Linked DNA regions of Homo sapiens. The protein of the gene in region 1 purifies or fractionates together with the protein of each later gene. This does not show direct contact. Each region holds a gene or a part of one and is shown on either strand. Other genes may lie near its edges.

What was found.
Region 2: the proteins of CTNNAL1 (region 1) and ARHGEF5 purify together in Homo sapiens (tandem affinity purification; one study listed by IntAct). This does not show direct contact.

What each region holds. Positions count from the first base shown.
Region 1 is NC_000009.12:108,978,780-108,982,602, forward strand, and holds part of CTNNAL1 (alpha-catulin), read right to left. Parts: intron 703-3,823; coding exon 502-702; intron 1-501. UniProt on the Homo sapiens protein: May modulate the Rho pathway signaling by providing a scaffold for the Lbc Rho guanine nucleotide exchange factor (ARHGEF1).
Region 2 is NC_000007.14:144,375,745-144,379,567, reverse strand, and holds part of ARHGEF5 (rho guanine nucleotide exchange factor 5), read right to left. Parts: intron 2,449-3,823; coding exon 2,378-2,448; intron 807-2,377; coding exon 702-806; intron 1-701. UniProt on the Homo sapiens protein: Guanine nucleotide exchange factor which activates Rho GTPases. Strongly activates RHOA. Also strongly activates RHOB, weakly activates RHOC and RHOG and shows no effect on RHOD, RHOV, RHOQ or RAC1.

The DNA.
Region 1 (3,823 bases):
AGCTGGATCTACCCTTGTTTTCATTGAATCTACACCCCAATAAGTTTTCTAAATCATTGTCTCTGTAAATCAGCTGTCCTCAGAGGTAAGAATTGTGTACATGTGAATGGCTCCAGCAGTCAGGCTCAGGTCCCAAGAACCTCTAGGAGGGGGTCTACTCCTCTGTTCTTCACTCTGAAGAAGTATTTTGGGGAGGAATTTTCCAGAGGTGAGTTTGGTGGAAGAGTAGGGACAACAGTGTGAACTAGTGATAGTGACAGAGGCATATAATTGAGACTGGCTAGAATGAGAGTCAACAGGCCTGGAAATAAATGTCAAGTATTGTAAGTGCTAGATGGGAAGGATATTTTGGCCAACTAGGAGGGAAAGAAGGGATGAGATATCCTGTCCCATTCTGGAACAAATTCATACTCCTGGTGATTATGTAACTTCCATATCTTGCAAAACTTTATGGGAAAGCCATTATATAAGATTTACTTTGATTTTAAAAAAAGTTCTTACAGCTTGAATCCACACAGAAATTAACTGCTGCAGTTCCATTCTCGCCTGAGTTGACAGTTCCAAGATGCGTTCTCTGTGCTCATGGCTGGTGTAGGCAGAATCAGTAAAGTCCTCCATACGCTCCAAGATGACTTCCAATGTCACAGAAAGGTTCTCTTTGGACTGAAAATAAAGATTCTCCCGAAGAGCTTCAATATTCATCTGAGAACAAAAAGGACATCTATCCATCCATGTGAGTCAATATTCCCACCTGACCAAAATGGGCTGTAATTTCTAACAGTGCCCAGGAAAACACTAGCATTTCCTTTTCCCAAGCTGAGGGGAAATACAGCCACCAATGATATCTATATTCGCCACTAACCCAGAAGGATACATTGCTCAAAAGCCTTCAATATCCATGCAAAGCACCATTCCTAGAGTAATTAATACAATGACATTGCTATGAGATCAGTGAATACTAAGGCAGAAAGAGCATCATCCTCTAGCAACTGGCAGGAAAAATGAACCAGCCTCCAGGTAAAAGATTTGCATCTGAGAAAATGCCTAGGCAAAGTCCTGGAAGATAAGTTACACCCAAATATGAAATGTGCTGAGCCCAGGGGGAAGGATGGTGTGGAAGATGTGGGGTGTGAGAAGCACTGGGGAAGACATCCATTTTTCCTTTGTTAATTCAGCAAAGACTCTCCTAGTCACCTAACTGGTCTCCCTACATTTTGTTTAAAGTCCCCAACAGCACCTTACTGACCCAAACATCCTCTACCAGAGGGTCTGTATAATCTAAAATGTAAACCATCTGATACTGCCACCTCCCTCTAATAGTTCCTCGCCATCTATAGAGAATCAAGCCCAAACGTCTATGTAGTATAGCACAAAATCCTCTATGGCCTGTCTTTATATACTTCTCTAACAGTCTATCTCACCCCCTGAACCCCCTAACAACCTTTCACTTCAGCCATCCTGTTTGGAGTTCCTTGACTATGTGATGAACACATGCTCATGTGTGCAGTCTTTCTCTCTCAGCTTTCTACGATGCATCATGCCATTTCAACCCTGTAAAACACTACAGTCCATGAAATATGTCACACAGACAACTTGGGCCAAGAGGCAACAAGCGGTAATGATCATGATTATGGTCACAATGAATGTGATAATAAGGATACCTTACATTTGTTTAACACTTCAAAGTCCTTTCACAAATGTTATTTTAATTAATCCTTATGTGTGACCCATTTTAACATCATCCATGAAAATATCAAAGTTTGGGAAAGTCAAGATGCCATAGGAGAGTCCTTGCTTCCCCTCCTGCTCTTGGCCCAAGTTGTGTCAGGTGATCACTCCATCCTAGGTAGACAGAAACTTGTATTTAAGCTAGGAAAGAATACAGATAATAGTAAGGTATGGAATTTACAATGGGGATCTTCTCAGAGAATTAAATTTATTTTATTAATTTAAGAGAATTAAATTTGAGAATTTAAACAGAATTAAAACATAAAAATCAGTTATATTGGTCTCATACCATTTATGTTAAGGTTTTTTATTTTCCCTTTAGAGAGAAAATATACATGTTTTTAGACAGCAACTTAGTGGAGTTTTGTGGGGTTTTTTTAAAGAGGCTATTTACTGATATGGTTTCATAACATTTGTCCATATATTCATGGTACCAAATACAGCAAAGTACCCAGTTTCCCTCCATAGATTATACTCTCCATCAGAAAAAAAGCAAGATGCCAAAGAGATAATCATGGACAGTGAGACTGAGCCTATTTATAACAGCTCTGCCTCCAGCATGCCTGATGGCGAGAGGGCAGCAGCCAGAGCTGTCGGCAGCAGCCACAGGCAGAGCACTGCCCCTCCTTCACCTGCACTAGAAATGCAGCAGCAGGTGGTGAAAGATGTCTCTCACTTGACTTACTTGTTTCCCTAATTATCCTTTGACAACACATCTCCTCCTTCAGCATTTATAAAAAGGGAAGATTAGAAAAATAATCTCTAAGATCTCTTTCAGCAATAAAATTTCTAAGAGAAGGTTTGGTCTGTACAGTTTCTTTCCCCTCAGGAAGACTCAGTGGTAGGACTGGCATCATATAAACAAACCCAGAGGTGTAAAGTGAAAGGTCATGGACTTTGGGATTAGAGAATCCTGGGCCTAAAGAAGGGTTCTACCACTTACTAGCTCTCCTCCTCAAAAAAAAAAGACAAAAAACAAAAAAAAAAAAAACAGTATATAATTATATCCACCTAAAGGGCAGGTAGGGATTAAATAAAATATTTATTAAGAGCAAAAAGAGATATTCTTTCCATTACTGTCTTTTCACCCCATGTTCCTACTTAGACCTTCACACAATTAGAAATCAAAGTCCAGGGCCAGGCGTGGTGGTTCACGCCTGTAATCCCAGCACTTTGGGAGGCCAAGGTGGGCGGATCACCTGAGGTCCGGAGTTCGAGACCAGCCTGGCCAACATGGCAAAACCCCATCTCTATTAAAAGTACAAAAATTAGCCGGCTGTGGTGGTGGGTGCCTGTAATCCAAGCTACTCAGGAGGCTGAGGCAGGACAATTGCTTGAACCCAGGAGGTGGAGGTTGCAGTGAGCCAAGATCGTGCCACCACACTCCAGCCCGAGAAACAAGAGTGAGACTCCATCTCAAAAATAAATAAATAAAATAAATCAAAGTGCAGTAAAATGGAAAGAATGCCATTCTCATCATAGCCCTGTCTGTTAGAGAGGTGGGAACCTTTAGCATTTGGATAACTTCTCAGGGCCTTAGTTTTCTGATCTGTTAAAGGAGGGCATTGTACTAGATGACTTCTTAGGGCCCTCCCAACTCAGACACTGCTCTTACCCAGAAAGCATCTTCACCATGTCTATGACTTCTGATGAGAAGTCAGACTTCCTGGAGTCACACTGCCTAGTTTCAAATCCCAACTCTGGTACTTAGTAGCCAGCAAGTTAATATCCTTTCTGTTTCTCAAGCTCCTCAACAGTGTAATGGAAATAATAGCAATAGTTCTTTGAGGATTATATAAGTTCATATATTTAAAGCACTCAGAAAAGGGCTGGCACAGAATAAGGACTCAATAACTGTTAGTGTGTATTACTGTTGATTTTTAAATTTTAATTATTACTAATACTATTACTATAGTCTCAAAGTACCAACCCTCTAACACAGAGAAAAGCAGGAATTCTAGCAGAAATGATTTGCTGCTCACCATCATCCTATGGATGGTACTGCTCAAAAAGATATGGCACTGCTCAAAAAACAGGAAGGGAACATTCTTTTGAACAGGAGGCTACAGCTAAACCATACAGCTAAACAGAGCCA
Region 2 (3,823 bases), on another chromosome or scaffold:
GGAGTAAGGTGGCCATTAATCCAGTATAACAGGTGTCTATATAAAGGAGGAAAACTTGGGCTGGGCGTGGTGGCTCACGCCTGTAATCCCAGCACTTTGGGAGGCCGAGGTGGGTGGACTGCTTGAGGTCAGGAGTTCAAGACCAGCCTGACCAATATGGTGAAACCCCATCTCTACTAAAAATACAAAAATTAGCCAGGTGTGGTGGCTCACGCAGCTACTTGGGAGACTGAGACAGGAGAATCACTTGAACCCAGGAGTTGGAAGTTGCAGTGAGCCAAGATTGCGCCACTGCACTCCAGCCTGGGCAACAGAGCAAGACTCTGTCTCAAAAATAATAATAATACATAAAATAAAAAAATAAAGGAGGAAAACTTGGACACAGACACAGGAAGGCAGCTAGCCACAGGAAGACAGAGGCAGAGATTGGAGGGATGCTGCCACAAGCCAAGGAACAGCTGGGGCTACCAGACTGGAAAAGGTACGGAAGGATCTTCCCTACAGGTTTCAAAAGACGCGTGGCTCTGCCCACACCTTGATTTGGGACTTCTTGCCTCCAGAACTGTGAGAGAATGCATTTCTGTTGCCATAAGCCACCCAGTCCATGGTACTTTGTCATGGCAGCTGCAGGAAGTGAACACACTCCCAGCACTGCCCTGCCTGCAGTGCCTGGCCTGCTGCTCACGCATGCTCCCGCTTACCGTCACTGCTCTGCTGAGTCACCATCACCACGTCGGCTTTCTCCAGTGCCAATTCATCATTCTCTCGGGGCTTGTAGGCTCGAAGGCACTGTACCTGGGGGGAGTCTTTGGAAGAGAAGAGTGTGAAGAGAGGTTAGGAGAGGCAGGGGATTGGAACACAGACAGGGACTTGGAGGGGGGTGGCGTGGGAGGACTTGAGATAGAGACAGATTTGGGCTGTTGAAAGTCACAGACAAAAGAGGAAATTTGAAAATGGTTAATAAAGAAATAGACATACCAGAAATGAAATGGACCAAAAATTCCACTTCTCCAGAGGAGACGGGTTGAGAAATACATGTGATCATCTCAAATACCTGAGATCCAGCTAATGACCCATCTTCCCTCTGAAACCGTCCCTGACTCTAGTCTTCAATGGGTTCTGAACTCTTTTAAGACTGCTTGTTCATGCCAAGGCATTTATCCCTTATTTAACTGCTACATGGACGTGTTTTGCCTCTCCAACTGGATTATAAAATCTGAGTCTGTGTCTTATTCTTCATTTTCTTCCCAGTACCAGATGTGGAACCAAGAAAGACTTAACTAGTGGTGTCCCAGGTTTGACCTAAGCCAGAGACTGAAAGCCCTGGAGCTTCAGTTTACTCATCTATCAGTGATCAAGATGGTTATTGATCAAGGTTGATCAGATGAATCTTGAGGACATTCAAGATTTCTCTATTTCTATGTTTTTGAGAACCAGGAGACATGTCCATAGATCTGAAGCTCAAGAAAACAAGCCTCAGAGAATGCTTCACCTATCAGTATTCCATCATATGTGGGTTTATGGCTCTTTTTTGTTACTACACTGCCTTGATTCTCTTGTAAAATAAATGGAATACTGCATTACTATTTGCTTTCTCAAGATCCTCCCCATCTGCCATTCACAAGGTCAAAATGAAGGAGGAAGAATGCTCCTGCCCTCCTCACCCACTGGGGAACTGAAGCCAGCAGATGGAGTGCACAGTGAGCAAGTTAACAGCGTTCAGTTACTACACGGCTCTCCTACTTCATTCCCAGGGTTCCTTGTAGTTGTTTGTTCTTTTCAGTCACTAAAGGTCCAGGGTTGAGGTCAGATTCTCTCTGGATTTAAATTAGGGAATCTTTGCTGGAGGACAACTGTGGGGCTGACATGAGAGGCATAAGAAGTCCAGTCTTGGTGTGAACACAGACACATACATAATGTGTGTGTGCCTGTGGCTCCCCATGGGCACCCAGAAGCCTGGGGTAGGTGACCTCAGGTCATCCTCTTAGGTGTGGTCAAGATAGATCTGGGGTGCTATCCTCCTGCACACCTTCTACCACCGTCAGGCTTTCTTCCCCTACCCCAACAAGACCTTCAAGCAGGTAAAATCTAGGCAAAATAATGTCAGCTTAGACTTAAGGGGACAAATATTTTTAAAAAGAGCAAACTATTGCCCAAGGAAGGGAATGTATGGGGAAGGGGGACTGCCATAGTGATGAGCAGTTTTAGGCGATATATTTCAGGTTTTTAAGCTCTAGAGGCCAATCTTCCACCCTGACATTTTACGGAATATCAATAAATGAAAGCCTAGAGTTCCCACCCAGCCCTTTAAACTCCTGTATCCAAAGGTGACATCTGACCCTGCTTTCTTTTCTCTCCCTCTTAGACCCTCACTCACTGTAACACTCCAGAAGGTCCAACTCCTCTCTTGGCATGGCCAAGGCTGAGATCCACCGAAGCTTTTCACTTCTGAGAAAACAAAGCAGGGTCATAGCATCAATTGTGGGGGTGTAGGAGGAGGGCCAAGGATGGGGATGGCAAAAGACTGTGGGAAGGACTTATCTAGTTCCATGACTTCTATCAAACACTATATAGGACTCTTTTTGGTTGGAAACATGACACAATCTTGAACTATATGTGAATGTGTCTTGTCACACTTTACTTTTCCTCTTCTCTTTCCAGAATTATCCTCCTAATGGCTTCTCATATCTTCCAAGTTGGGGCGTAATGTTCATTAGTCATAAAGTCTGGAGATTTTCTGTTTTGGAAATTGTGCTAAGCGAAGTGTTCATTTCAGTTTAGATTCCCTCCATCATTTGGCATGATTCTTGACACTCGCTTGCCTATCTCCCTTCAACTAACTATCTCAGAGATGATCATTGTTTCATAATAATAATTAGATCAGGGAGATATGTCTACTGTTTTATTTGTTGTTGTTGCACGGTGTAATCCAAGCTTAGGTTTGTAATCATCTGAAGGTTTCTGCATTCTGTTAGCCTCTGTGCCCAGTTGTGCCTAGGTAACTGGGAATGGACTATTACTGTTCCAGGCACAGTGCCCAAAGCACCAAACCAACAACATGCATCTGCACCTGATTATTTGACTTATGTGCTGTTTTGCACACAAACTCCGATACTAGTCCTTCTGTTCAATAAATGAGAACAGGTGTTATCGGTCCCACTCTGAAGTATCTTCCAAGGGACAAAACTGAAAAAGTGTCTACAACATAGGGATCCTCAAACACTTAGATACGTCAAACTTTTAAATGACTGTTCATATATCTTTTATAATAGCAATAACAGCTACAGGCTTTTACATGTTCATTATTGCAGGCACTGTGTTCCAGATTTTATAGGTACTATTAATACTCTCAAAAATGTATGTCTGTGTGAATGTATTTTATTTTATTATTATTGAAAACATGAGCAAATCAGCATTCTCAACACTATGGATTTCTGGTCAATAGAGGACTGGTTTGGAAGATGGGAGCACAGAAAGTAAAAGTCACCCAGCACTTGTCTTATTCACATCTGTGCCCACCAGCTGGGGCATAGAAGGGTTTCTGCCTCAGGCATGGAGGCATGTGCTCACAGATACCAGTATTCCAATTCCTTGCTCACTCCATACCAGTCCTTCTCCTTTCTGATACTACACAGACCTTGTCCCTCTTGAGTAAAGAGTATAAAATAGATGCTAAGCCTCGGTGGTGACTTTGTACCCTCTCCCACCCCAATCTCCTGCAAGTTATCCATTAGTTTTAGGAGTCTGAATTTCTCTATGGTGGTCCCCAGTCCAGAATGGGCTAAATGAGGCTGTGGCTGTCTTCTGGACACATTTTCTGCCT